Homo sapiens: one gene and its partners. The protein of the gene in region 1 purifies or fractionates together with the protein of each later gene. This does not show direct contact. Each region holds a gene or a part of one and is shown in the gene's direction. Other genes may lie near its edges.

Region 1 (4,024 bases):
GTTCAGGTGGCTGAGGCACAAGAATCCTTTCAACCTGGGAGGTGGTTGAAATATAAATATAAGATATATATATATGATATATTCTTTATGTATTAATTTATGTATAACATATATTATATATTAATATATTTTGTAGAGACAAATATATTTATTTGTACATATAATATGTGTGTGTATTTGTGTATATGTGTATATATATATATATATATATATATTTTTTTTTTTTTTTTTTTTTTTTCTTTTTTTTGAGACTGGGTCTCGCTCTTTTGCCCAGGCTGGTCTCAAAGTCCTGGGCTCTAGCGATCCTCCCGCCTTGGCCTCACAAAGCACTGGAATCACAGGTGTGAGTCACTGTGCACGGCCAGTTGTTTTTATCTTGTAATAAAAAAGAAGGGCCTCCCTGTAGTTGTGCTGTGGAGAATGGATCCTGGGGGATGAGGCTGGAGATGGGAACCAGGGGGGAGGCTGAAATGGACACAGGGAACGGTACAGGGGCAGGAGTGCCCCAGGCTGCAGGCCCCAAGGTATTTCGAGGCTGTGGAGACACACCTTGGAGGACCCTGAGAGGCATGGCCGCTGTCTTACCCTGTGACCCCACAGGCCCAGCGCAGCCTGTGCCTGGGGGGCCCCCACCATCCCGCGGCTCCGTGCCTGTGCTCCGCGCCTTCGGGGTCACCGATGAGGGGTTCTCTGTCTGCTGCCACATCCACGGCTTCGCTCCCTACTTCTACACCCCAGCGCCCCCTGGTGAGTGGCCCCTACCCAGCCCCTCCCTGAGCCACTGGAGCCCCCTGCACCTCTGATCATCCCTCCCACACCAGGTTTCGGGCCCGAGCACATGGGTGACCTGCAACGGGAGCTGAACTTGGCCATCAGCCGGGACAGTCGCGGGGGGAGGGAGCTGACTGGGCCGGCCGTGCTGGCTGTGGAACTGTGCTCCCGAGAGAGTGAGTGCTCCCCCAGGATCAGCGGGTTGGAGGGTCCCCTCGGGAGGCCATTGGCTGGTCCCAGCTTCTTCCATCCACAGGCATGTTTGGGTACCACGGGCACGGCCCCTCCCCGTTCCTGCGCATCACCGTGGCGCTGCCGCGCCTCGTGGCCCCGGCCCGCCGTCTCCTGGAACAGGGCATCCGTGTGGCAGGCCTGGGCACGCCCAGCTTCGCGCCCTACGAGGCCAACGTCGACTTTGAGATCCGGTACGGCCTCTGCCTCACTTCTCCGGCCTCTATCCCCACCCTCGGGCAGCCCCTGTCCACTGACCCCCAGCCCCCTCCAGGTTCATGGTGGACACGGACATCGTCGGCTGCAACTGGCTGGAGCTCCCAGCTGGGAAATACGCCCTGAGGCTGAAGGAGAAGGTGCAGGGCTTCCCAGGGCAGGGCTGGGTGGGGAGCTGGTACCCTGCTGCCACCGCTGACCCACCCATGCCCACAGGCTACGCAGTGCCAGCTGGAGGCGGACGTGCTGTGGTCTGACGTGGTCAGTCACCCACCGGAAGGGCCATGGCAGCGCATTGCGCCCTTGCGCGTGCTCAGCTTCGATATCGAGTGCGCCGGCCGCAAAGGTCTGTCCCCGGGCCCGGGCTCCTGCCCGCCTCATTGATGTGCCAAGTCGGGGGTCGGAAAGGCAGGTCCGGTGGAGGGAATGGCAAGCATGAAGGTGCCGGGGCAGGAGCACCCCAGCCCATGTGGCCAGATGGAGTGAGCACAGAGGGTGTGGAGATGGCCTGGAGGTGAGAGCAGAGCAGGAGCCAGGGTGAGCCACGTAGGGCCGGCAGGCAGCGGGGACAGCCCCGGGGAGATGGCAGGTGCAGCCTCCCTGCTGTGTTGGGAGTGAGGGGCAGGAGTCAGGCCCCTGCATCCTCCTGCCTCGCAGGCATCTTCCCTGAGCCTGAGCGGGACCCTGTCATCCAGATCTGCTCGCTGGGCCTGCGCTGGGGGGAGCCGGAGCCCTTCCTACGCCTGGCGCTCACCCTGCGGCCCTGTGCCCCCATCCTGGGTGCCAAGGTGCAGAGCTACGAGAAGGAGGAGGACCTGCTGCAGGTAGCTCTCGCTCCACGCCCCACACCATTTCCCGGGGTCCCCGCCAGCCTCCGCGTCCTGAGCCATCAGCTCCTGGGTGCTGCGACGCCCATGTCTGTGGGTCTGGGTGGGTGTCTGTGGGTCTGGGTGGGCCCCTGTGCAATTAGGCTTGAGCACTTCCCCTCTGGGTTCTGCAGGATTTTCAGGGGTGGCTGGGGTTCTAGAACATTCTGGAAGTAGGGGAATCCGAGGCAGGGCAACCACCAGGGTGACCCAATGTGCTCCCACCCCCAGGCCTGGTCCACCTTCATCCGTATCATGGACCCCGACGTGATCACCGGTTACAACATCCAGAACTTCGACCTTCCGTACCTCATCTCTCGGGCCCAGACCCTCAAGGTGAGGGCTGGGCAGGTGGGAGGCTTCTCTCAGATGCCCCAGGTGTGGCCTCCGGGCCCTGGGCCTCCTTCCCACTCCCTCTCCACATGGCTTGGTGCATCTTGCTCTGTGTGCCTCAGCCGATTGCCTGCAGGGGCAGCCTAGGCCTGGTCCTGCCCTGCTCCAAGTCGAAAAAGTTACTGTGGCTTTTATCAGAGGCAAGGAGGGCGTTACGGTGGAGTAAGAGAAGGCTGTGCATTCAAGGTCGGCCTGAAGCTTGCAGGGGTTCAACAAGCCATGAAGCAGCCACTGAATCCCAGTCTTCCTTTAGGTTATATCAGCATAAGGAAAAGAATCATAATGGAGGAGGAGGGGGGAGTGTGTTGACTGATGGGGCAAATTCCGGATGCTTCTTGAGTCTGCATGTGTGTAAGGGTGGATTCCTCTGCCCGAGTTGCTGTAACAAAGAGCCACAGACCAGGTGGCTGAAAACAGCAAAAAGTCATTGTCTCACCGTCCTGAAGGCTGGAAAGTCCATGACCAAAGTGTCAGCGGGCCTGCTTCCTTCGGGGGCTGCAAGGGAGGACTGGTTCACGGCCTCTCTCCTTGGCTTGCAGACGGCCATCATCCCCCTGTGCCTCTTCACACCGTCTTCTCTCTGTGCGTGTCTGTTTCCACATGTCCTCCCTTTTTTTTTTTTTTCCAAGACAAAGTCTCGCTCTGTCGCCCAGGCTGGAGTGCAGTGGCGCAATCTTGGCTCACTGCAAACTCCGCCTCCCAGGTTCATGCCATTCTCCTGCCTCAGCCTCCCAAGTAGCTGGGACTACAGGCGCCCGCCACCACGCCTGGCTAATTTTTTGTGTTTTTAGTAGAGACGGGGTTTCACTGTGTTAGCGAGGATGGTCTTGATCTCCTGACCTTGTGATCCGTCTGCCTCGGCCTCCCAAAGTGTTGGGATTATAGGCGTGAGCTACTGCACCCAACCCCTTTTCTCTTTCTTTTTTTTTTTTTTTTTTTTTTGAGACAGAGTCTCGCTGTGTCGCCCAGGCTGGAGTGCGATGGCACGATCGAGGCTCACTGCAACCTCCACCTCCCAGGTTCAAGCGATTCTCCTGCCTCAGCCTCCCAAGTAGCTGGGATTACAGGCGTGAGCCACCACGCCCCGCAAATTTTTGCTTTTTTGTTATTGTTTCTTGAGATGGAATTTCGCTCTTGTTGCCCAGGCTGGAGTGCAATGGCACGATCTTGGCTCACCACAACCTCCGCCTCCCAGGGGGCGCTGGGGTGTAGAAGTGATTCTCCTGCCTCAGCCTCCCAAGTAGCTGGGATTATAGGCACCCGCTTCCATGCCCGACTAATTTTGTATTTTTAGTAGACAGGGTTTCTCCATGTTGGCCAGGCTGGTCTCGAACTCCCAATCTCAGGTGATCTGCCCACTTCGGCCTCCCAAAGTGCTGGGATTACAGGCGTGAGCCACCGCGCCTGGCCTATTTTTGTTTTTGTTTTTGTTTTTTTTAGCAGAGACTAGGTTTCATCATGTTGGCCAGGCTGGTCTCCATCCTCACCTCAGGTGATCTGCCCACCTCAGCCTCTCAAAGTGCTGGGATTACAGGTGTGAGCCAGTG
Region 2 (4,732 bases), 9.1 Mb from region 1:
CGGGCGGATCACTTGAGGTCAGGAGTTCGAGACCAGCCTGGCCAACATGGTGAAACCCCGTCTCTACTAAAAATACAAAAATTAGTCGGGCATGGTGGCGGGGACCTGTAATCCCAGCTACTCGGAAGGCTGAGGCAGGAGAATCGCTTGAACACGGGAGGCGGAGGTTGCGGTGAGCTGAGATAGAGGCCCTGCACTCCAGCCAGGGTAACAAGAGCGAGACTCCGTCTCAAAAAAAAAAAAAAAAAAAAAAGAACAACAAAAAAAAGAACTGGATGCGTCTGATCTGACGCACGCCTGTTTGTTTACGACTGCGGGGTGTGCCTTTGTCTGAGTAGAGATAGTGTGTGGCTTTTGCGGGCTTAACGTGTGGCTCAGGAGGCAGTGGGAGTCTGCATCATGTATCCCGATTGCGTCTTACTCGAGTTTTGTTTTGAGTTAGAGGCGACAGGTGGTGCAGCGTTAGACACTGGGAAGCTCTGTGGCTTTTGTATTCCTGAGCGCGAAGGTTAATGACGGATCCGTGGGGTTGAGCTTGTCGGTACAGACGCCAGACAGCCCGATTTACGGGAACAGCCGATTAGAGGATTCGGGAGAGCGGTCGGTGAACTTCTGGATGTCTTTCGGGAGGGGAAGGCTCTATGGTCGCGTGCAGAGCGCCCGTTCCACGTCAGGTACCCGACCATAGAGCAAGGCGGCCGCGGACTACCCAAGGGAAGGGGAGGCCGTGTCCTTTACAACTTGCCTCCCGTTGTTAGTCTAGTTTCTATAGCCAAACCTTCGGGACTCTCTCAACTCAAAATTTTGCTTTTCCTAAAGGCAACTGGGTTCCTTCCAGATTACGAACTGTGTATCCACTTAATCTCTATTTCGTATACCTCCTCCTACAGCGAAATTTGTGAGGCAGTCCTCTGAAGCACGGCCAATCTGGTGAACTTTTCCTAAAATGAGCCATCGCTACCAGCTTTAGTGAGCTAAGACAATAACTGCGATTGGTGGGCAGATTGTTTTGAAACCGCCCTAACGGCAAGGGGCGGGCTCCTGGTGAATTCATCTCTTTCCGGTTTCTTAAAGGCAACAGGAAGGAGGGGTTTCTGCCGACCCTCCATTTGATTGGTTCTAGTGGTTTTACCCGCTCGGACTCCTCAAGGGGCGGGAGATGTACACCAATCGGAATGTGTGTTACAGAGACACTTAGTTTGATGAAAGGACTGCGCAGGAAAGGCCGTGGGACACTCATTCTGAGATCTTACCGTTGATTGGACCAAATTGTTACTCCCTTATTTTCATTGGACCTTACGGCAGCCGGCGCGCGAGAGTTACCCAATCAGCAAGCGCTCCGCCTCCTGCCTTTTCCCGCCCTCCGCTCCGGCCTCGGCTTCGACGTAGGCCAACGCTTCCTCCCCAGTAGCTCCTAGGCCTTCTCGTGGCCGTTGTTTTGAAAACGGCGCTCTGATTGGCTAGGTTTCCGGGCCCGCGCCCGTTGCCCCACGCACTGACCAATTGGCACTCATGTAACATCGGACGAGGCACGAGTGAGGGGGGAGGCGGTGGCGGCGGCCATTTTGAGCCGCTGCCGCCATTGGAGTGGGCCCCCCCCCTTTCCCCCTTCGCCTCCTGACAGGAAAGGTTTAAGGGGGACAGAGCCCTGGGAGGCCGGGCCGGGCTCGGGGGCCACCCCGGGGGCCCGGGCCATGGATGTGCGCCGTCTGAAGGTGAACGAACTTCGCGAGGAGCTGCAGCGCCGCGGCCTGGACACTCGAGGCCTCAAGGCCGAGCTTGCTGAGCGGCTGCAGGCGGCGTTGGAGGCCGAGGAGCCTGACGACGAGCGGGAGCTCGACGCCGACGACGAACCGGGGCGACCCGGGCACATCAACGAGGAGGTCGAGACCGAGGGGGGCTCCGAGCTGGAGGGGACCGCGCAGCCACCGCCGCCCGGGCTGCAGCCGCACGCGGAGCCCGGCGGCTACTCGGGGCCGGACGGACATTGTGAGAGTGCGCGGGGCGGGGGCCGGGGAGCCCGGAGCCTGGGCCGAGGAAAGGGCTGTGGGACGCGGGAGTCCAGCGCCTGAGGTCGGGGAGACGACCTGAGGATCGGGGGATCCCGCTACCCGCCGCCGAAAAGGATCTGGGGACCAGGGCCCCAGCACGACCGGAGGGTGGATCCTGACACTCAGTGCAGGGGGGACACTGGGGGAGGGGCCTCTGGGTTTCGGAGGTGAGGGACGGGGGTGGCGGGGAGGATTCCGTACCGTAGGGATCGGAGACCGGAAACTGCTTTCTGGAGCCGAAGAGAGTCGGAAGAACAAGAGGTTTTCCGTTTGGGTTGGGGAGGGTCTCGAAAATGGGGATCCTAGGGTACGGAGCTCCGTGGGCTTGGCGGTCGTGCTAGCCCAGCGTGTGGGCTGGGGGGTGGGGAGCCGTGTTTCCAGGGTGGGGAAGGAATGTCCAGGTGTGCGGGGCTGCGAGAGTTCTGAGGAAGGAGGATCCTGGAATATGCCGCTGGATGCGATCCTGGGCGTTCTCCTATTTGGGTACGGGGGTGGGTGGGAGAGGTGGAGGCGCTGGTGTCTGTGGCTGGGGAGGGTCCTAATGGACTCAGTGCTTTGGAGTTTGGCTAGTGAGCATTTAGGGGCTGCGGGAGATTGAACTAGGGGGCACCCCCATCTCTCTTCCGGGGCTGGAAGGCCACCCTTGAAGCAGGCACAGCCTGGACATTAGGTGCTGGGAGATCTGGGGACTTTCTGGTTGGCTTCTAGAAGAGGTATAGGGAGCCCTGGTGTCCAGAGGCTGGCGGGGGAGAGGATGCTTTCCTGGACAAAGGATCTGGGGGTCTAGAGCTAAGAAAACTGAGGGCAAATAACTCTTGAGGCTGCTGCTGACTGGTCTGGAGCTAACTGTGGGGTTTTTGGAGAACAGAGGGTAGCTGGGGGTGGGATGGGGGCAGATGAGTTGGTAACATTCCAAGTGGATGAAATATGTGGCGGGAGACAGAGGATCCTGTGTCCAGCACAGGAGTACGTATCTGGCTTAGCGAATATGGGGAGGGGGGAGGCCGTAGGGAGCAAAGAGAAAGAAACCTGTTGACTTCACTGGAGGCCTCAGAGTGGAGTGTGGGGAATGTTTCTGGACCTGAGCGTCTCCAGGAGAAATCTCGACGGTTCCCAGAAGCAGTTATTTGTGTACCCAGGGAGTGGGGGCCCTCGGGGAGCAGCACGGAACTCTTCATCAGCCAGGAGCTGTGACTCTGGGAATGGGTTCGGGTAGACCTGCGGTTGTCTGAGGAGAGGAAAACCTGATATGGGACGGCGTGAATCTTCAGTTAGAAAAAAAGCAGCTTTCGGGCCGAGTGCAGTGGCTCACGCCTGTTATTCCAGCACTTTGGGAGGCCGAGGCGGGCGGATCACGAGGTCAGGAGTTCAAGACCAGTCTGGCCAGCATAGTGAAACCCTGTCTCTACTAAAAATACAAATATTAACCGGATCTGGTGGTGTGCGCCTGTAGTCCCAGCTACTCGGGAGGCTGAGGCAGGAGAATCGCTTGAACTTGGGAGGGGGAGGTTGCAGTCAGCCGAGATTACGCCATTGCACTCCAGCCTGGGCAACAAAAGTGAAACTCCGTCTCAAAAAAGAAAAAAGCAGCTTTCTTTCTCTTTTTTTTAAATACAGATGGGGGGTCTCGCTATGTTGCCCAGGGTGGTCTTGAACTCCTGGGTTCAGGTGATCTCACCTCGGCCTCCTGAAGTGCTGGGATTACAGGCGTGAATCACTGCACCAGGCCTCAGGGCAGCTTTCTAGTAGGACTGGGAAATGGGGGGACTGGAAAGGTTAAGGAGTAAGTAGAAGGGATTCTGGCGTAAGAGTTTGTGGAGTTTTTCTGAAAAGAGGGCACCCTGGGACTTGGGGCTAAGGGGATAAGGAGAGAAATGAGGTAACAGAAGAGACAGGATTTGGGGTTGGAATTGGATACTTGTTCATAAGAGAATTTCCCGGAGGGAGGAGTGTGGATTTGGGGTAGGCAGTGGCCTAGAGATTATCGAGGACCCAGGTGCTGGAAAGAGGACTTCCCATTGCAGAGACTTGTGAAGAAAGGAGTGGGCCTGTGTGTGTGTCTAGAGCAGGAGGGATCGTGGCAGGAATGCCTAGCAAGAAAGGGTAGTGGGTTAGTAGTGACCTGGTGGTCTGGGCAGAGAGTCATCTCTGAGAGGAAAGCGAATTAGGTGCTTTGGAGCGTAGACTCTAGACTAAGACAGACTTCGTTTCAAATCTGGCTTAAAGATATTGGCAAGTCACTTCACCTCTGTGGGCCTGGTTTCCTTAATGTGTAAAATGGGGTTAATCAACAAATAGTGTGTTCACAGCCCCTCCAACCCCTGAGGGGTGTTATGAATGAGATCACATGTGAAGGGCTTATCACTGGGCCTGCCTTTTATGAGAAGAGGGATGTTTTAGAGAATGGAGAAGGACCCTAGAATTATAGCTTCTCCAGGAGGGGCTGCCTCTGTGAACACAGGAGAGAGATGCTGGGGAAAAGAGGCTTTGTGGGAAGAGGAGCATTGTGCTTGGAGCCTGGAAGCAGCAGAATAGTTTGAAAGGGCCCCATATTCCAATTAAGGAGATAATGCTATTTCTTCCTCTCTCCCTTACTTGCTACAACAAAGTCCTTTGAGCCCCCTTCATGCCTCCCTTAAGCCCTCCTTCAACCTTGGTAAACAGACCGGTAGCAAACCACA
Region 3 (4,602 bases), on another chromosome or scaffold:
TGGGTGTTTTCCTGCCTTTCTCTGTCTTCTAATTGTGTGTGGATGCGTCTGGACCACAGGCTGGTGTTAGTATCTGCGGAGGAAAGAGGAGCTGTGGCCGCTACACATCAACAGAGGGCACCAGAGAGCCACGCACCTACTTTCAGGGGCAGAAATTGAGAAAACTTGGCGGGGAGTGTTAGAGACCCAGGAGATCTGGGATCTGGGAGGAAAGAAGTGGAGACCTCTTTGGACCAACACATTACTGTAAAATTGTGCAATTCCAGCAACTTCTCTGTCCATTCCCTAGGGTCCAGACCTCTGGCTACCCGAGCAATCCTGTGAGCAGAAGTATCTGGTCAGGGGTGAGAAGAGGAGCTGGTTGCCAAACTGGGCCCTTAAGAAAGTGGAGATCCCTCCTGAATGCTCTCATGATTCTCAGGAATTCCCTTCCTTCCTAGTTCCTCCATGTCCCTACCCCAAAAGATCTCAAACTCCAGCGTGCTTAGAGATCTGACTGGTGGCTGTCTTCTCCTCTGGCTTGCATTCAGGGAGGTGAGGCCAGGTCTTGGCCCTTCAAAGCCATCCAGTTGGCTACCTTCTCCTTCGGGATGGGTGGAAGGCTAAGATGAACAAAGGAAGGGTCAACTGTGCCTCTTCCAGGCCGCTGAGTCCTCCAACGCCTAGCTGTGCTCAACCTTGACTGGGTGAAGCCAAGGCAGGGCCTCAAGGCAGGTCCAAGAGGCAGCTCCCATTCTCCAGTTCTGGGTTTTATAGGTGGGGAGAGGCATGTATGCCCCTCCCTTATCCAAGCATTCATTAGTCAATTGAGAATTCTTAATTTGGGGAATCTAGGGGCTAGACTTTGGGTGTGGAATTTAAAAAGAAAGGTCTTTATGTTTATTTAACTCCCTGCCCCCCACCCCACTCCTAGACACACACACGGAAACACACACACACACACACACACACACACACTCCCCATCACATCCTCTGAGCTAGAGGCTGATGTCCCTCAGCCCATGTTCCTCCTCCACTGCTTAGTTCCATAGCCCGCGACCAAGATTGCGTCTATAAATAGGAGGGGGTGGGGTGGCCAGGGGTCCCGTCGTGCCTGCCCCAGAACCCACGACGGTCACATTTTTCACCCCCTTTTGCCTTTGCCCTCAATTCCTTTCCCTCTTTGCTCTCCTTCCATCTCAGTTCCAGCGAGGGGGGTATGTGTGTGCGCGCGTTGTGGGGGGGCAGGGGGAGGGCTCGTGGAGGGAGGCGCCGTCGGAGGGAGAGTAGACGTCAGGCGGAGGGAGGGAGGCAGGCAGGCAGGGAGGCAGGGAGGGAGAGAGGGAAGGAAGAGAAGGGGAGAGAAAGGGGGAGCAAAGACCGAAAGAGACCCAGAGAGATACAGCTTGAGAGGAGAAATAATTAAAGGGGGAGGGCGACCAGGAGGAGAAAAAGGTCTGGGAGGAAAGAGAGATAAAGAGAATCGGAGGGCAGGGAAATGAGTTTGTGCGCGTGAGTGTGCGCGCGCGCGTGTGTGTGTGCAGGGGCGGGCGCGGGCGGGCGGGGGGCGGGCTCCCGGGCTCCCGGGCTCCCCTCCTCCCCAGCCCGCTCCTCTGGCTCGCTCGCCAACTCCGGGCCCCAGCCGCGGGCGGGCGCACGGCGGGCGGACAGCATGCTGAGCCTCCTCGTCTGGATCCTCACTCTCTCCGATACTTTCTCCCAAGGTAAGGGCCCCCAGCCCACCCCCGGACGCTCGGCTTCCCCCCGGGGCCGGGGCACTGCTTCCCCGGTGGGAGAGTGCTGGAGTGCCCCGCGGCCCGCGGCCAGTCCCCGGGTCCGGACGCCACGAGGCGGGGGCTCGGTCCGGGCGCAGAGCCCTGGGGGAGGGGGCGCGGAGTAACGAGGGGCTGGGGAGAATGAGTTTGCCGTTGATTTGCCCAAGTTGTTTCCTCTGGCTGCGCGGGAGAACCGAGCAATGGGGCCGCGAGGGCTGGAGGTCCGAGTAAAACGGGGAACCGAACGCTTTCTCTTGAGCTTCTGGCAGCCCTACCGACCCTCGCCCTCTGAGGCCGGGGTTCCGGACGCCTGAGTCCAGCCTAAGGGCAAGGCTGGGAAGAGGGTGGGATTTCGGATTTCGGGCGAGGGGGTGAGCGAAAAGCTGGGTCCCACCTCCCGAAGATGTTGCCAAGGGGATCCCCCTACTCCAGCCCAGCCCCTCGGGGGTCTGAGTCTGAATCACGGCTCCAGCCTGCCTGGGGCTGCCCCCTCTAGAGGAAGGGAGGGGTGTCTCGGCGCCTCTAGTGGGGATTTGGAACCCCTGCCCACGGAGGCTCTGGGTGGAGAGTGGAGTTCCACATACAGCTTCAGGCCCGCTTGATACAGAGGGGGGGAACTCACGGGGGCGGGGGCAGAGGCGGTGGGGGGAGGGGGCTGACACTCTACTTGGGCTCAGGAAAGTGTTGCTGTCTGGGGCTTATTTGACACTGGCAGGGGAGAGGCTGGGAGGTGAGGGAGGTGGTTGGGAGAGATGAGGATGTCAGTGTATCCTGGGCAGGGCTGGGGTTGGGGGAGGGAAGAGGGCTGAGGGAACCAAGGGTCCAGACTGCAGCAGGGACTGGGGTCTGTGGGAGTTGGTTCTTGCCTCCCAGGTCTGACTCTAAGGAAGACTGAATCCTGCTGAACTCCTTCCCTCCCCAAAAATGGAGCTGACACACAGAAATTGACACACAAACACCGTAAAACACTCACAGACACTGAGACAGACTACTCACCTACTGAGAGAGAGACATCCCCACAAACATCCCCCACACTGAGACAGACACATATACACAAAGACACGGAGACATCTGAGGAAGACAGATTCCTCCCCCAGATCGGCACACACTCACGCATTCATCCACCCGAACGTTACAACTATACACAGTACATGTATGCAGGCGTTTACAAGGACAGGACACACGCTCTCACAGAAACCAACCCTCTAGCAAACAAAGAAACTTGAACAGACATTCATATGGGCAGACACCTATGGAGATGTACAGACTGCAGATGGAGGAGGTGTCCTCTTTTAGGGGGTGTCTGGGAATGGATCTGGGTAGAACAGCCTCAGGCATTATTGCCCTGCTTTCTGTTCCCTTCCTGCGTTTGTAGGTGGTGTGTTATGCTGGACCTTTCCTCTCCTTGTCGGGTCTCTTCCCAGTTCCGAAGGCAAAGCCTGGCTGAGTTGGTGGGGGCACGTCTTGATTCATTTCTCCCCACAGGGCACCCATGCCAGCCCCCCAGCACACACTATGATATGGGAAGGGCACACATCTGTGGTGTGAGCCAGGAGTGGGAGGTGGTGCTAGGGGAAAGGAGGAGGCCTGGCCCTGGGGTTGGCAGGCCAGGCCAGCCACTTGGCAGAAAGTTGGGAAGATGACTTAAGTTCTGACTTTGTTCAGCCAGGCTGTTGGTGTCGGGGAGGAAGGGGGTGGGCCATGGTGGTGGTGGAGGGGGGTCATGTTGGTGGTGGAGGAGGCCCCTGGGTCAGTATTGGTCTATGTTGGGGGCAAGCTTATGTCTGTCCCTTTCTTACAGCCCTTACATGTCAGCATCATGGATACAAATGAGTGTTAAGGAACAAAAGCAGCAGTTAGCAAACAGGAGAGACATGTGGATTGAATTGGGGACAGAAAGAATTGTGTGTTGTGTGCCTTTCTCTCTTTGGAAAGGAGCGAGTGGCTAGGGAATGCTGAGCTCCCACTTCTCTGCTCCAACAGGGGTGAAAGCAGGACCTGGTGAAAGTGTCTGGGGTTGGGGGAGAGGATACCAGAGAAAAGAAAGGGAGAGACTAGACAGGAGGGGAGGGGAAATCACTAGTGAGTGTTGGGGGAAGCTTGGCAAGGGACTGGGGAGGAGGCAGAGAGGGAAGGAGTAGGGGTCTGGGGAGACTGGGACACACATGGGGGTGGAGAGCTTGGCAGGACCCCCTTTCCTTAGCCTCCATCCTCAGAAAGGAGCTCTAGGTCAGGGACTGGGGCAGTGAGAGAGGAAACGGAGGGGGGCGCTACAAAAGGGAGGAGGAATGATGGTGGGGGAATAGGGATGGGGGAGTAGGTGTCAGCAGGAAGCCATAGAATTGAGGGGAGCAGAGAGGAGAGGGGAAGGGGAGATTCAGCCTAGGCTGAGAAATAAAAATCGCATTTTAAAGAATTTCAATGGGCTTCATCAATCTTCATTTTTCACTAAATAATTTTCTGTATCTTATCTAAATGAAAACCATTATCCTTCCCCCCGTTTCCATCATGCGCCGGCTCCACAGACTGATTGCGCCGAAAATTGAAATATTTATTCATTTTCTGGGAGATTTTCTCGCTCCCTAGTCTCGGGGAGGAGAAATTGAAAAAGAAAGATTATAGCTAATCAGAGCAATGTGGGATGACAGGCCGGCTCGGGGAGGGAGCTGCCTCCGTGGGGGGGATGGATGTGGGGGCAGGAGAAAAATAAGCCCACCCAGCCCCCAGAGCTCCCCCTGGCATTCCTGCCACAGCTTTTGAGGGGAGTAAAGGGTAAAGGGAGGAGGCCCGAGGGCCTCCTAAATTCCCAGGATTCAACTCCCTGAGTACAGCTGAATCCTGGCAGAGA
Region 4 (4,024 bases), on another chromosome or scaffold:
TATTTCTAGATCTTAATGAGACAATTTTCTCACTCATGCTATTGATTTGAGTAAATAAGTGCTAAGTAAAGCTTTGAATGAGTTAGCCAGTCCCTCGTTTACATCAACCTCTTGTCAGCCTTTGCATTCATTACGGGCTGCATGTGTAAGATTTTATCCACTAAACCTGAAATGATTAACTCTCTAATAGTTATCAATTATGAATGGAAATGTACTATGCAATAGGATTAATGGCATAATCTCTTTAAGTGGAAAGAAATTGATATGCTTAGAATAGTATTTAAAATTTCACCCATGCATTTTATGACTTTAAAATGTGTTTTAACAGAATAAAAGACTTGTTTGAACACCTTTCTGAATGCCTGTGTCATATCACCTATTAGAGAGGTGGTTCTGGTGGCCCCGCGACACATGTATATTACACCTGTGATCTGGCTGAAATGCTGTCCCTGGGCCCTCGCTTGATTGTTGAAATAGTCTCATTTTAGGATCTGTTGGGATTCTAGTGAAGATTCCTTGTCTTTGTGATTTTCTCAGTAAGCTTCCTGATAGTCTGCATGGTGTATGTACAGAGTTACATTCCGTGATGATTGGTGGAAGTAAAGTTCTGGTAGGCTTTGATATTGCTGTGAAGAAAGGCAACCCTTGAAAGAAAATGAAGGATAGCTTTTTTAAATGTTGAAGTTAGACTGGAGTTACCCTCCTTTCTTAACTCATGAATGGATGTCTTAAGTATATCGTGAAAAGAAATGCTTTTCTTTATGTGCAGAGTGGTCCCGTTGGAGCAGTGCTTTCCACGTGGGATTATGTGGCACTTGAAGCTCTTGGCATCCCATAAATGTTTTGAAAATACTGATGGGATGAAAACCTCACTGAATTTCCTGTGTCCTGAAATGTACCTGGCAGTTCTTTCCCACAAGATGGTGGACAGCAGTTGAATAGGAATTGTTCATTGTGCTTAAAAATATCTCCACATGCATTTTGCTCTATGGTGGAAGTTGTCAGAATGAAGAGTCCAGCTCCACGTGATGAGGCCCTTATAACATGAACCACAATAGTCATTTTTATTTATACACCTTGTTATTGGAATCTTTTTCTTTTCTTTTCTTTTTGAGATAGAGTCTCACTGTGTTGCCCAGGCTGGAGTGCAGTGATGCAATCTGGGCTCACTGCAACCTCCACCTCCAGGGTTCAAGTAATTCTCATGCCTCAGCCTCCTGAGTAGCTGGGAGGTGCCTGCCACCATGCCTGGCTAATTTTTTTGTATTTTTGGTAGAGACGGGGTTTCACGACGTGACCAGTCTGGTCTGGAACTCCTGACCTCAAGTGATCTGCCCGCCTTGGCCTCCCAAAGTGTTGGGATTACAGGTGTGAGCCACCGCGCCCAGCCTGGCATCTTTCTCAGTGTTTTTAAAACATTGTTTATATAAAGTAAGCCTTTAATGATGATTTGATTGGATCACTCAAATTACTATATGTGAAGGAAGTATTTGGAAAATTCTATGTGCAGTTTCTTGTGCTTAACCTTTTATTAGGTTAAAAGAATGAAGGGTAAAAATATTATCTTTTTAAAATTAACTGAGGACATCATTGGAAGGAATCTTATATAGATTAAAAACCTTTAATTTATTGAAACTTTACATTTTCTCTCTGAAAAATGCCTTCAGAGGTATTGTTATGCCATATAGTTGCCTTATATTTTGTAGTCTTTTTTCCTTTTCCTTTTATGACTTATTACCACTGCTGTGTTTAAGGGAGTATTTTTGTTGCTGTAATTTTGGGGGTGAGGATATAAAAGACAGTTAAGTCTATTTCAGAACGCATTGCAGATAAAATTTTTGATATACAATATATTACAATAAAAATGTGAATCCAATTTAAAATAATTTATCGTGCTATGAAGCTGTAAATTGTTTTGAGACAATATAGGCTTATCCTAAATTAATTAAATTTATGAAGCTTAATAAAAACAGCAGGTGTTCTTAAATGTCCATTAAACATCTCTGTATACATTTTTCTGGGAGTATTGCTCTATTCCTAGAATATTCTATACCAGGTACTGCTGTGGTTCATTGAGAATGTTATTCAAATCTGAGTTCCATTTCTAGGGTTATTTTTTTTAAGCACAGCTAAATAAAAATCAACTTCTACTTTTAATAATTTTCTGTCTTTCCCATTGCAAAAAGTCATGTGCATCAGAGTTTTTAAAGCACCTTTTTAGTAAAGCAAAAGGTTTTGACATGTATTTGATTCTTCTACTATGTAGATCTAGATATGTAGATATATGTAGTAGTTTATATATTTGAATTTTTTATTGACGTATTATCCCCCAAAATTGCAAGTTATATGTGTATAGTTCAGTGAGTTTTCATAAGCTAAATTCACCCATCTAACCTGCTTCTTAAGAGACAGTACAGTACCAGTATCCTTGAAGCCCCCCTTAATCCTTCTTTTCAGGAACTACTCCCCTTTCTCTCCAGGGTAGCCACTCTCCTGACCTCTACAGGCTTTGTTAGTTTTTATTTTTGCCTGTTTTTGTTCTTTATATAAATGAAATAATGAAAAATATTCACTCTTTTGATCTCACTTCTTTCAGTCAACATTATGTTTGTGAGAGTCACCCATGCTGTTGCATGTAGTAGTGGATCCATTTATCCTCACTGCAAAGTTGTCTTCCATCATGCAAAGATATTCCAGCTCATTTGTCCATTGTACTTTAGATGGGCATTTGAGGGGTTTCCTATTTCGGGCTGTTACTGCTTTGTAGACTTTCCTCTAGATGTTTTTAGTGAACATATGGATACATTTCTGTTAGATTTATGTCTACAAGTGGAATTGGTGAGTCAGAGGAGTACATATGTTCAGTTTTAGTAGATATTGCCAAGCAATTTTCTAAAAGTAGTTGTGCCAGTTAATAGACCACCATCAGTGTATAGAAGTGCCGGTTAAATTCTTGGTATTGAACCAAGAATTCAATTCTTGGTATTGAACCAAGAATTCAATTCTTGGTATTGAACCAAGAATTCAATTCTTGGTATTGAACCAAGAATTCAATTCTTGGTGTATAAAAGTAGTTGTGCCAGTTAATAGACCACCATCAGTGTATAAAAGTGCTGGTTCAATTCTTGGTATTGCAACACTTGATAATGTACAGTTTTCATTGTAACCATCCTAATGGATATATACCAGAATCATAGAATAATTTTACTTTGTGCTTCTCAGGCGATTGATGAAGCTGAGTATTTGAATATCTTCTTTTTTAAAGGTTTTATTCTCTTTTATTATATTTAAATGTATTTTCAGCTATTTCTGCATTTAATTTGGCAGAGAGAAAATGTCTCTTGACTTCCTCATCTCTCTTGAATGTATCTGGAGACAACAAGTAAATCAAACAGTATAGAAATGAAAAACACAACCAAAGGTGGGAAGCAAAGAAGATGATGGGAAAGGGAAGATGAAAGTAGAATGAATTACTCACTCTTGTAGCTGAGGTTAAAGATAAATTTTAAATAATAAAAGTATCATGTGTAAACTTTTAAAGAAGACACATCTCAGATAGGGTCACAAAGTAAAACTCAATTATATGGTGTTTGTAAGAATGGACAAACCAGTGAATTCAAGAGGAAAGAAAGCGGTGCAGAAACAGCATTGTGTGAGCTTTAAAAAAGAGCACTTTATCACGACAAAGGGTGCAACTAACAATTAAAATCAGACATGATATCAACTTTCGTAATTGAAAAAAACAACAAAACTGTTCGAAATAGCAGGAGACAAAGCCACACACATTTGTCACAGAAAATTTTAACTCTTCTTTCTCATTCTGTGAAAGCTCACATAGACAAAAGTAAGAACATAGCATATTTATATAACATAATGAAAATTTGCTCTAACCAATACAGACCAGGGAAAAGATTGCTGATCATGCAACAAAAGACTACCTTTTATGTTAGGAAAGGAGGTTCATTGAAAACATAAGACAACATCATAACACAGCAGGAAAGGGGGCAAAGGACGTGAACACAAT
Region 5 (4,024 bases), on another chromosome or scaffold:
GATCCACTCACCTTGGCCTCCCAAAGTGCTGCAGTTAAGGTGTCAGCCACTGCACCCGGCCAAAAAAAGAAAACATTTTTGTGTTGCCTTCATTTTTATTTATTTATTATTATTTTTAAATTTTTTATTTCCATGGGTTTTTGGGGAACAGGTGGTATTTGGTTACATGAGTAAGTTCTTTAGTGGCGATTTGTGAGATTTTGGTGCACCCATCACCCAAGTAGTAGGTATGAATCCAGTTTGTAGTCTTTTATCCCTCACTTCCTTCCCACCGTTTCCCTGACTCCCCAGAGTCCACTGTATTATTCTTTTTTTTTTTTTTTTGAGACAGAGTCTCGCTCTGTCACCCAGGCTGGAGTGCAGTGGCGCAATCTTGGCTCACTGCAAGGTCCGCCTCCCGGGTTCATGCCATTCTCCTGCCTCAGCCTCCTGAGTAGCTGGGACTACAGGCGCCCGCCACCATGCCTGGCTAATTTTTTGTATTTTTAGTAGAGATGGGGTTTCACCGTGTTAGCCATGATGGTCTCGATCTCCTGACCTCATGATCCACCCGCCTCGGCCTCCTAAAGTGCTGGGATTACAGGCTTGAGCGACCACGTATTGTATTATTCTTATGCCTTTGCATCCTCATAGCTTAGCTCCCACTTATGGGTGAGTGAGAATATACAATGTTTGGTTTTCCATTCCTGAGTTACTTCACTTAGAATAATAGTTTCCAGTCCCATCTGGGTTGCTGCGAATGCCATTAATTCATTCCTTTTTATGATTGAGTAGTATTCCATTGTATATATATATCTCCCACAGTTTCTTTATCTACTTGTTGATTGATGGGCTGAATGACTTTATATTTTAAAAGTGCTCAAATCATTGCATGGCACAGAGTGAGGCCTCTAGAAAGTTGTGTTAAGTAAACAAAAGAAGTCCTGAATCAAGGCAGTGGCAGTGGGAATAGAGGGGAGAAGACAGCAGTATTTGGGAGATCGTTTAGGTTGGATGATTAGGTGGAGGGCCAGAGGGAGGAGGAAAAGCAGTGGCCATGTTTCTGTTTTGGGTGAATGGTGGTGCTATGCATGGAGATGGGGAATAAAGGGAGAGAAGCAGGTCCCAGCTGAAGATAAATTTAGTTGAGGACATTATTAGTTAGAGGCACCTTTGGGAGATTTGCAATGGGATGGATTTGGCTGCATGTTGGCTGCATAAATATGGAATTCAGAGCTGGTCTGGAGAAACAGACACAAGATTTAGGAAGTATCGGTATGTACATAAGTGGTACTGGGGTTAAGTAGGTGTGAGTTAGTTCGCACAGTGTGAGTGTGTGGTTCCGGAGTTTTGACTTGGGGTTCCCAATAGGCTTTAGGGGAAAACCCCTAACATTGGATACAAAGTTTTGTGCATATGTTTGTTTTTTCGTATTTCCGTGGAAAATATGTGTAGCTTTCATCCACAAAAGCATAAAAACAATTGGCATGATTAGTGGGAGAGCACCTGCTTTGTTTCCTTGGCACACATTTTGGCTTATTTTAATAAATGAGCAACTTGTTGCAGGTGTTGACAACTTCCTTCACTAGCATATAAGCTCTGTAAGGGCAGGGGTCACAAGGAGAGGGAACTGCCATATAGCGCGTGGCTCACGGTGCGTTTTCCACAAATATTAGAGGAATGAATAATTACAAGTGAACTTTATATTTCCACTAAAAATACAAATAAACTAGAAGGTAAAACTTCCTGGTATAAAAACATCTCTCGCACTGTTGCATGACTTTATATCTAAGCTATTAAAACACTTAGCGACAAATAATATTGCCTAGAGAAATACAGTTATTTTATTATGTTGTAGGTCTATTTTCAGTTTGGACTTAATTTCTTTTTTTTTGAAACGGAATTTTGCTCTTGGCCAGGCTGGAGTGCAATGGTGCGATCTCAGCTCACTGCAACCTCTGCCTCCCAGGTTGAAGTGATTCTCCTGTCTCAGCCTCCCTAGTAGCTGGGATTACAGGTGTGCACCACCATGCCTGGCTATTTTTGTATTTTTAAGTAGAGACAGGGTTTCTCCATGTTGGTCAGGCTGGTCTCGAACTCCCAACCTCAGGTGATCCACCCGCCTTGGCCTCCCAAAGTGCTGGGATTACAGGTGTGAGCCACTGCGCTTGGCCCAGTTGGACTTTATTTCTGTGTTCATTTAAGTAGTTTAAATTTGATTTTTTTGGCTCAGAAGTCAGTTGTAAAAAGCTAGCTTCTGGGCCGGGCGCTGTGGCTCATGCCTGTAATCCTGGCACTTTGGGAGGTGGATCATGAGGTCAGGAGTTTGAGACCAGCCTGGCCAACATAGTGAAACCCTGTCCCTACTAAAAATACAGAAAAATTAGCTGGGTATGGTGATGGGCACCTGTAATCCCAGCTACTTGGGAGGCTGAGGCAGGACAACTGCATGAACCTGGGAGTTGGAGGTTGCAGTGAGCTGAAATCGCCCCACTGCACTCCAGCCTGGGCGACAGTGCAAGACTCTGTCTCAAGGGAAAAAAAAAAAAAAGTTAGCTCCTGGATGAATAAAAACCATAATCGGAGTACATTAGCCCTGGTGAAAATGTCAAAATTCTGAAATAAACCATTAGATCAGGCATAAACAGTCTCAAATGCTTTAGTTATCCCAGTTATGCAGGTATGAAAAGATGCTTTTTAAACTTAAATTAGATAATTATTTCCATTTGCTATTTTAATATGCCTGTGTTGATTTGTATTTTTGGATCAGGTACCTGGAAACTTCTGTGATAGAGTATTTCATTGAATGCGTAGTCTAAAGCTCAATGATAGTAAATATTATGACTTCAGAATCTTATTCTTCCCTCTTGCCACAACAGCAGTAGAAATGGGTCTTTTTGCTGTCATGGGAGTGGCCTCTCAGGTAGACTTAACAGATACTGGGGTGAGTAGGGGAAGTAGTTTCTATTCTCTATTTCTGTTCCCTCAGTGTGCTTTATTTCTTCTGTTCTTTCTTTTCTGTGCTCTGCTTTGTTTTCTAAAGATGGATTAAAGAAAGATTAGGAACAGAAAGTAGAATGAAAGCTTCACAAGAACAGAGACCTAGCCTGTTTTGTTTATCCCAAGCATCAAAAATAGTTCTTGGTCCATAAAAGGCTCTGAGTAAATATTTCTTGAATGGATAAATGAATGATTGAATGAAAAAAGTTGATGCGGGCTCTTAAAATTCTTCCTAGCTAGAACTTGTTACTGTTCAAAAGTTTTTCAGACCACACTTATATTTCACTCACCAGTGTTTTCCTCAGAGAAGTTTTTGAGACCCATGCTAGACTGTTAAATTAGTAACATCAATTATAAATCTAGAGATATTTCTGATTTCTTTAAAAAAGTTATTAGTTTGACTTAAAATAAATTTTAAAGAAGAGGAAATGTCCTACTAAAAGTGAAAGTATATTTTTGTTTTTTGTAGCCACAATGTTTTAATATGAGAGTAACAGAAAATCAATTATAGAAACTCAGTTTTATTAACTTAGCTCAGAAATAATATATAATCAGCATTAATTTAATACCTTCTTAAAATTTCTTAGGTAAAGTCATAGCACAAAGTTAATCCCAATTAAAAGATTCTTTTAATACATAATCTTTAAAAACAAATCTACCATTTATTTTGGTTTACATAATCAAGAACCTCTCTTTCTGAGTGCAGTTGTGAAGGTCAGTGGCCTGAGGAATAACCGTTCATGTGTTCAATGAATTTTTTTGTTTTTAAGACGGAGTTTTGCACTTTTTCCCCAGGCTGGAGTGCAGTGGCGTGATCTTGGTCCACTGCACCCTCCACTTCCCGGGCTCAAGCCGTTCTCCTGCCTCAGCCTCCTGAGTAGCTGGGATTACAGGCACGTACCACCAAGCTCGGCTAATTTTTGTATTTTTAGTAGAGATGGGGTTTTGCCATGTTGGCCAGGCCAGTCTGGAACTCCTGACCTCGTAATCCACCCGCCTCGGCCTCCCAAAGTGCTGGGATTACAGGTGTGAGCCATCACGCCCT
Region 6 (4,024 bases), on another chromosome or scaffold:
GGTGCCTTCAGGGTGGTCTGGCTGTAGACTGCTTCTGCTTTAAGAAAGCAAACATCAGAACATTAGGAAAGATCTCTATAAAGGTGTAATTAATTTTTTTTTTCCTTTTTTTTTGGAGACAGAGTCTCACTGTGTTGCCCAGGCTGGAATGCAGTGGTGCAATCTTGGCTCTCTGCAACCTCTGCCTCTTGGGTTCAAGCGATTCTTGCGCCTCAGCCTCCTGAGTAGCTGGAATTACAGGCATGTACCACCAGGCCCAGCTAATTTTTGTATTTTTAGTAGATACAGTGGTTCGCCATGTTGGCCAGGCTGGTCTTGAACTCCTGGCCTCGAGCGATTCTCCCGCCTCGGCGTCCCAAAGTGCTGGGATTGCCACTGTGTCTGGCTGGTATAATTAATTGATACTTAATATAGTTCAATTTTAATTTGATTGATGGAGAAGGAACACAGGAAGTTCATAATCAAATGATTAAAATTGCAGCTTTCCTTCTTAATGGGTCCATGACCATCAACTATTTAGGTTATAACTTTTTTCAGCTACTTTTGGTACACCTCATTTTAAAAACGTAATGTATATGCATACATGTGTGATGGAGCATATATAGCTAGATCTGGTTCATTATCTATGTAGTTTTGCCTAGCCATAATAAAAAGATCTGTTTAGTAGTAGTGCCGAGGAATTTGAGAAAAATGACTGAATACAGCTTTTACGAGATCTGGGAGAAGAGAAAAAGGGATGAACCTACAGATACATCAGATACCTTCCTGTGGTATACAGTTAATGTGTGCGCGCGTGTGTGTGTATTTATATACTCTGGATCAGTAAGTCTGGAAAGCAGTAAATAATATTAAAACAAAATAGAAAATTTAGACACATTTAATGGGGATTTTTTTGCTTTAATGGTCCTCTTTAAATAGAAGTTAAGATTAGAATTAATTAAAATGTATTTGCTTATTAAATTGCCAACATATGTATTTTAGTGAAATACAGTTTCAAAATGTATATTTTTGGAAAAATTTTAAAAATTATATTTTTTCTAGTTAGCCTATGTTTAGAAGAGAAACTGCATGTAAGGGAAAAGAGCCCATTTTGAGTGGCAATTGAGAGATTGATAAGTGCGTTATCAAGCATAATGTTTTTTCTTTAAAGGCTCTATTTAGAGTGATAAATGATAGGAATTGCAAATATTCATTATTGTGATTTGCTGTATATACATGTTATATAGTTTAAATGCTTTTTCTCTCTTGATCCTGTCTTTTTAACTCCATTTTCTTACTGCTAAGTACAGTTCACTGTTTCTTATGATATATGTTGACTTAGAAGATGGCACTGAAAAATAAAGGAATTACTAATTGCATGTGACTTTCCCCATAAATGTTGGCTAGGATTATTATACATTTGATTTGGAGACAGGATAGCATATTTAAAATTTTGGTCTAGAACACAGTAAATTTTGAATGCATTCATGAATTTGGAATGTGATGTACAATGCAGTCTTTCTGGGCTTCTGTTTTTTCATTTATTAAAATATGTAAGGTTGGCAGTTGCATAAAAACACTCATTGCAAGTTTTAAGCAAATGTGTATGTATTCATAAAATTCCTTTTATCCAGACAATCAACTGAAGGCACTAACTGAGAAAAACAAAGAACTTGAAATTGCTCAGGATCGCAATATTGCCATTCAGGTAAGAGATATTTCTTAGAATAAGCTCATTGTAGACATTTTACTTGAAGGGACATTCTATTCTGATTGTTTATCAGTTATTAGTCAATGGGAAGATGTAACTGATGTCCTATTAGGGGAAGCTACCAACAAAAATATGTAAATATAAATTCCTTAATTGGATCTATGTTTTATTGATAGATTGGACATCTCTTTTATTCAACAGAAATTATCTATTGAATGCTGACTGTAGTCCAGGTATTATATCAAATGTGATACAGTTGGGAATTTGGGTGAATCCACATTGGTAGTCATTTCCTTAGGGTAGTTTTATAAGAATGACAGTTTGAATATGATCACAGGGATTGCTGACAAATTTGTTAATTAAAGTGGTTGCATGCAATTATTTTTTAACCAGATACAACTTTATACTTTTGCCATTGCTTTTTTAAAATTTGCATTTTATTTGGTGTTAAAAGATAATTTCTTCACATTTCTGAAGGGAAAAAAAAATTTACTTCCAGAATCTGAATAGGCGCAAAAAAGCCTCGTAGTATACCTAGAAAGGCTTTGTAAGAAATGTATTTATATGAAGAATGACTCAATACCCAAGAAAACTCAAATACTTCTCTGAAAACTGTGAGAATATACCTTTATAAATGAAGATATTGCAAATTTCTGGATGGAAATGTTTTCCAAATTAATGTGTTGGTAATACATTTTGACTCTTAAGTCCAAGTCAGATAGCCAGAAACTTGTTAATGTAGTTCTAAAGATGATTGGGGAAAAAAACATAGTAATAGCTAGGATGCTTCTAAAAAAAGGAAGTATCAATTTAAATTAAGTACTTGCATAGCCACATATTCAAGTTTTATAAAGCTATGGTTATTAAAATATTACAATGCTGATATAAAAATCAGTACAGAGAATAAAAGGCAGTCCAGAAATAAAACCCAATACGGAGGTTCTTAATCTTTTGGAAAGAAGCAGAGCTGTCACAAAATCTTTATAAATCTTGTAAAAACTATGGATCTGTAACCGAGGAAAATAGTGTGCACACAGTCACATAAAATTTTTCAGAAAAAAAAAACTATGAAGTGACTTAAAAAGTAATAGAATTTATTTAACTGCTTGGTGGCTGAAAGAAAGAAACTGAAAGCTTTTTCACTAAGATCCAATGCAAGGCTGGGATGCCCACTCACCACTTGTATTCAGTATAGTACTGGACGTACCAGCAAGAGCAATCAGACAAGAAAAGGAAATAAAATGCACCCAAATTGGAAAGGAAGAAATAAAATTATCTTTACTTATAGATTATATGATCCTATATGTAGAAAACCTGAAAGATTCCACAAAAACCTGTCAGAGCTAATAAGTGAATTTATACAATTGAAGGATACAAAATCAATATTAAAAAATCTAGTAGCATTTCTATACACAAACAATGACCTAGCTGAAAAAGAAATTAAGAAAAGATTTCATTAGAGTACCATCAAAAAACAACTTAGGAATAAATTTAACCTGGGAGGTGAAAGATTCATATACTGAAAATAATATAACATTGACGAAAGAAATTGAAGATGCAAATAATGGGAAAGATATACCATACTCATAGATAAGAAGAATTATATTGCTAAAATGTCCACACTATAAAGTGGTAAAAAGATTCAGGCCAATCCTGTCAGAATTCCAAAGGCATTCTTCGCAGAAATAGAAAAAAAAAATTCTGAAATTCTGATGGAATCAGTTTTAAAAATCCTGAATAATAACCAAAGCAGTACTGAGCAAGAAAAACAAAGTTGGAGGCATCATACTTCATGATTTAGAAAACTGTTATAAAACTATAGTAATCCAAATAGTACAGTACTGACATAAAAACAGAAAAGTGACCAATGGAATAGAATAGAGAGCCTAGAAATAAATCCAAACATATGGTCAACTAATTTCAACAAGGGTGCCAAGAAGACCCAATGGAGTTGTGATCGTCTCCTCATTAATGGTGTTGAGAAGACTGGATTTCCACATTTGAAGAAATGAATGTTGGATGTTTGTGTTGCTTACATCATATACCGAAATCAAGCCAAGATGGATGAAAGATCTAAATGTAAGACCTGAAGCCATAAAACTCAGAGAAGTGAACATAGGGGAAAGGTTCTTGACATTGGCCTTGGTAATGATTGTTTGGATCACATCAGTAGTTCAAGCTGCAAAAAGAAATAAACGGAACTACATCAAACTAAAAAGCTTCTACACAGGAAACAAGAATATTAAAAGGCAACCTACAGTTCTGACATAGGTAGCTTGAGATAGATATTTCTAACTCAAAAACATGTAGATTGCCATTGTTTTGCTGGGAAGC
Region 7 (4,024 bases), on another chromosome or scaffold:
GCAATCATTTACTGTGTGAGCAGAGAGAGCTGCAGAACCCTCTGATCTTTAGATCCCCAGTACACATGCACTTAAAACTAAAATCGTGACTTCTGTAATGCGTTCTATTTATAGAAACCTGCTTTTTCCAAAAAGCATGTCTGTTCTTTTTTCAGAGAATAATGCTGCTAAGACATTTTGTTTCAGAGCCTATTTAACTCCTAGTGATTTTGTATTCCTCAGATTACGCTCTGGGGAAGGACTGTATTATGCACGGGTACATGCTGAAACTGGGAAACCCATTTCTGACTCAGTGGCAGCGTCGCTATTTTTACCTCTTTCCAAATAGACTTGAATGGAGAGGAGAGGGAGAGTCCCGGGTAAGTCTAAGGCAGCCTCACCGAGCATGTTTCCCAGTACGTACAATGGCATATGGTTATTTCATGTTGCTGACATGTTTTATACACTATCCTCCGAAACTCTGTGATTCTATTTTACTGCTCTACATGAGATTGTAATGTGCAAACTTTAACTTGTTTTTAAACTTCCAAGTCAAGGAACAACTTGGTAATACCTGAAAATAGAACATGCTTTTTAGTGAGGTCAGAAGCACCACATCATCAGATGGATTTGAAGAAGGCTGGAGAGCAGTTAGACAGATCTAAAAAGAAAAGACAAGCTGGACTTTGAAGTCAGACAGAGGTGTTCAGCTCCACTGCTGAGTGTCTCTGGGACTTTGAACACGTCACATTGACTCTCTCAGCCTCCGTTTTCTCATCTGTGAAATGAGGGAAATAGAAATCATAACAACTGCAGTCAGCCCTCCATATCCACAGATCCCCATCCTGGGATTCAAACAACCAAGGAGAGAAAATATGCGGGAAAAAGAAATTTAAAATAACAACAAAACAATAAAAACTAATACAGAAAAAAAACAACACAGTCTAACGACTGTTTACATAGCATTTACGTTAGAGGTGATTTAGAGTATACAGGAGGATGTGTGAAGGTTATATGCAAATACGATACCATTTTATATCAGCAACTTGAGCATCTGTGGATTTTGTATAATTTGGACCTGGGCAGATTATACATTTATTATGCTACTCAGGGGTTCCTGGAACCAGTCCCCTGTGGATACTAAGGGATGACTGTACTGTAATTTTTGCATGTTTATCTGAGGTCAAGTGCTGTTAAAAAAAAAAAAAACTCCATGTGTTTGGGAACCTTTGAGGGTCCAACTCTCATTTTATAAAGAGGAAAGCAGGCTTAGAAGAGGAAAGTCTGCCACCCAAAAACACAACTGGACAGTTAGGAGGTGGAAGGGTGACTCAGACCAGGTCATCCTGTGCCCTCAGTCTCTCCATTGTACGGCCTCTCCTAGTTGGGTCAAATAAAATGTCCCAGGCCATGACACTTGGCACAGAGATGAGGTCACCAAAAGATGCTTCCTTGTGTCTCCACCTTGTTGAGAATTTGTAGGTGGATCATACAACAGACAGCAAGATGTAGCTGCCCTCTAAGATCCTTTCGAGAGCTAATGTTTGTGAACAAGATAAAAAGAAATTTCTGATCCGCACTACCTTTCAGCAAATCAGGCAGCATTTATTAAGTGCCTACTGGGTGAAGAGCCCAGGGCTTGTCAACAAGGAAGGAGCCAACCCTGGTGGAAGGCATCTTTTCTTTTCTTGGTGGGGTGGGGGGGGGGCCTGGTGAGTCATCGTAAGCAGGACGATGGTCCCAAACACTCAAAACATTGTTTATGTGTTGGATATGTTGGAATACCACCCATCTGTTCTCCAGAGATCAGAAGTGTGGAAAACAGGGCACCTAAATCTCATGTATTTGACTTTGGACTGTATTTTTAGTTTACTGTTAGCAAAGTTTTCATTCAATTATGAATGATTACAATTGCATATCACTCCATTTCTTTGAAAAGAAAGAAGATCTTCCCAACCATCACTCCTGCCATCGAAGTTATTTTTGAAAAATTAGAATCTAGGATCTAAGTTCCAATTAATAAGATCCTTTTGGGGACCTGAAGTGTAACTCAGGGCTGGGAAGCATCAGAGTAGCTCCCCAAAGCTCACTGTATTTCCAGGTAATGAGCGGACCTGGGCAGATTATACATTTATTATGCTACCCACTGGCATGTTAAAAGGAAATCACCCCACTTTTCAGGCTGTTTGAAAACTTAAAAAAACAAAACTTTTACCTTTGTTTAACATTGGATGCAATAAATGAGCTTGGTTTTAAAAGGTTCAACATTTAGTGTTCTATTTAAGAAGCTACATAATATGCATGAGCAGATTTGTAAGTCTAAGTAAGGAAAAAGAAAACCTGAGTGTTTATCAGAGTGCCATTTCTCATTCAGGATTCCTGAAGTATTTATTTAAAACAAAAACCGTAAGACGCTAAGGAACTCATGACACTATAGCATTCACTTTAAGGAATAATACTATAGACTTTTTTTTTTTTTTTTTTTTTTTTTTTGAGACAGAGTCTTGCTCTGTCGCCCAGGCTGGAGTGCAGTGGCGCGATCTTGGCTCACTGCAACCTCCACCTCCTGCGTTCAAGCGATTCTCCTGCCTCAGCCTCCCGAGTAGCTGGGACTACAGGAGCCCGCTACCACGCCCGGCTAATTTTTGTATTTTTAGTAGAGACGGGGTTTCACCATCTTGGCCAGGTTGGTCTCGAGCTCTTGACCTCGTGATGCACCCGCCTCGGCCTCCCAAAGTGCTGGGATTACAGGCATGAGCCACCGCGCCCAGCCTATAGACCTTTTAATCTTTTAATGAAACCACCTCTATTTATGACATCATTGGGATACTATCAAAATATTGTTAGCTTACAAGCTGACATCAGTAAACATTTACTGAGTTGCTGCCTTAAAACTGAACCACACACCTTTGGCTCACATAAATCATATGTGGCTCTGTTGCTTCCTCACAATGTTATTGACAGAATGTATATGAGTGTGCCATACAGCAAGTAGGCTTGCGATTCATCATCATTCAAAATCAGTTCTGTGTTGAGGGAACAGCTTTGCCGTTTTTCCCTAGCAAAACATTGCTTTCTCTGCAGTTTTCCTTGAAACATTATAATTTGAACTTTTGTTTGTGTTCCTTTATAGCCATTTTCCCCTTACTTCTAGAATACCATCAAAGAAAGAAAACCGAATGTGTTTTCTTTTTTTACTTGTTCTAACTTGGTAGTTTTTGGTATTACTACTTAAGAAATCACAAAATAATTTGAATTTTAAATTTCTGTTTTTATGGTTAGCAAAATTTACTGACAATGGAACAGATTCTCTCTGTGGAAGAAACTCAAATTAAAGACAAAAAATGCATTTTGTTCAGAATAAAAGGAGGGAAACAATTTGTCTTGCAATGTGAGGTGAGTTTTTATTTTTTCTTAGGTGAATGTTAGAATAATTAAATATTCAGCAAAGTTGACTGCCTGTCTATAAAACATTTTCTTATGCCATGTTTTATCACTTACAAACTTAGTAAGAAAGCCCCAAGGTACAAGGTTTTCAGCAAATTCATCGTGATTTTTTAAAAAGGCAAATATTAGAAAATGGCAGGAGGATGCAGGTGAAATAATGTCATTACTCTATCTGGAAAATCTGCTCAGTATTTAATAGGGCTGGAATTTTATTTGTTCTATAACTTTGAAGATTTTTCGGCATGTTCGATGTTAAGGTTTATATATTTAGATAAATATAAGACGGCAAACTGAAATGCCATCTTCTCTAAACGAAAATGCCATCTTTTCCTCAAAGTTACATTGTAACACAAATTTCATTCCTGGACACTTTGTGACTGGTTCACTAGTGTGTGTGTTTTAAGAGAGCATATTTAGAGAAATAAACACGTATTAGATGCAAAAAAATCATTTTTACTAACATCAGTACTACATTACATACATGAATATATATTTAAAACATTTTTTAATTTGTCAAAACTCCTTCCCCTATATTATTATAGATTTCAGTTGTTTTAGAAATCAAAAGTAATCTCTAAACAAATTAAAGGCAGTGATT

Evidence for each region.
Region 2: the proteins of POLD1 (region 1) and HNRNPUL1 purify together in Homo sapiens (affinity purification with mass spectrometry, with the first as the bait; one large-scale study listed by BioGRID). This does not show direct contact.
Region 3: the proteins of POLD1 (region 1) and KIRREL1 purify together in Homo sapiens (affinity purification with mass spectrometry, with the first as the bait; one large-scale study listed by BioGRID). This does not show direct contact.
Region 4: the proteins of POLD1 (region 1) and KIF16B purify together in Homo sapiens (affinity purification with mass spectrometry, with the first as the bait; one large-scale study listed by BioGRID). This does not show direct contact.
Region 5: the proteins of POLD1 (region 1) and RFC1 fractionate together in Homo sapiens (co-fractionation; one large-scale study listed by BioGRID). This does not show direct contact.
Region 6: the proteins of POLD1 (region 1) and TPR purify together in Homo sapiens (affinity purification with mass spectrometry, with the first as the bait; one large-scale study listed by BioGRID). This does not show direct contact.
Region 7: the proteins of POLD1 (region 1) and GRK3 purify together in Homo sapiens (affinity purification with mass spectrometry, with the first as the bait; one large-scale study listed by BioGRID). This does not show direct contact.

The regions. Positions count from the first base shown.
Region 1 is NC_000019.10:50,401,178-50,405,201, forward strand, and holds part of POLD1 (DNA polymerase delta catalytic subunit), read left to right. Parts: intron 1-600; coding exon 601-747; intron 748-821; coding exon 822-947; intron 948-1,027; coding exon 1,028-1,196; intron 1,197-1,276; coding exon 1,277-1,358; intron 1,359-1,434; coding exon 1,435-1,564; intron 1,565-1,875; coding exon 1,876-2,042; intron 2,043-2,315; coding exon 2,316-2,420; intron 2,421-4,024. UniProt on the Homo sapiens protein: As the catalytic component of the trimeric (Pol-delta3 complex) and tetrameric DNA polymerase delta complexes (Pol-delta4 complex), plays a crucial role in high fidelity genome replication, including in lagging strand synthesis, and repair.
Region 2 is NC_000019.10:41,262,810-41,267,541, forward strand, and holds the start of HNRNPUL1 (heterogeneous nuclear ribonucleoprotein U-like protein 1), read left to right. Parts: upstream 1-1,562; 5' UTR 1,563-1,694; coding exon 1,695-1,989; intron 1,990-2,055; exon of another isoform or gene 2,056-2,073; intron 2,074-2,271; exon of another isoform or gene 2,272-2,506; coding exon of another isoform or gene 2,507-2,534; intron 2,535-4,732.
Region 3 is NC_000001.11:157,992,026-157,996,627, forward strand, and holds the start of KIRREL1 (kin of IRRE-like protein 1 isoform 1 precursor), read left to right. Parts: upstream 1-1,619; 5' UTR 1,620-1,651; coding exon 1,652-1,703; intron 1,704-4,602. UniProt on the Homo sapiens protein: Required for proper function of the glomerular filtration barrier. It is involved in the maintenance of a stable podocyte architecture with interdigitating foot processes connected by specialized cell-cell junctions, known as the slit diaphragm.
Region 4 is NC_000020.11:16,500,299-16,504,322, reverse strand, and holds part of KIF16B (kinesin-like protein KIF16B), read left to right. Parts: intron 1-4,024. UniProt on the Homo sapiens protein: Plus end-directed microtubule-dependent motor protein involved in endosome transport and receptor recycling and degradation.
Region 5 is NC_000004.12:39,356,122-39,360,145, reverse strand, and holds part of RFC1 (replication factor C subunit 1), read left to right. Parts: intron 1-4,024. UniProt on the Homo sapiens protein: Subunit of the replication factor C (RFC) complex which acts during elongation of primed DNA templates by DNA polymerases delta and epsilon, and is necessary for ATP-dependent loading of proliferating cell nuclear antigen (PCNA) onto primed DNA.
Region 6 is NC_000001.11:186,368,633-186,372,656, reverse strand, and holds part of TPR (nucleoprotein TPR), read left to right. Parts: intron 1-1,613; coding exon 1,614-1,687; intron 1,688-4,024.
Region 7 is NC_000022.11:25,718,023-25,722,046, forward strand, and holds part of GRK3 (G protein-coupled receptor kinase 3), read left to right. Parts: intron 1-222; coding exon 223-359; intron 360-3,261; coding exon 3,262-3,375; intron 3,376-4,024.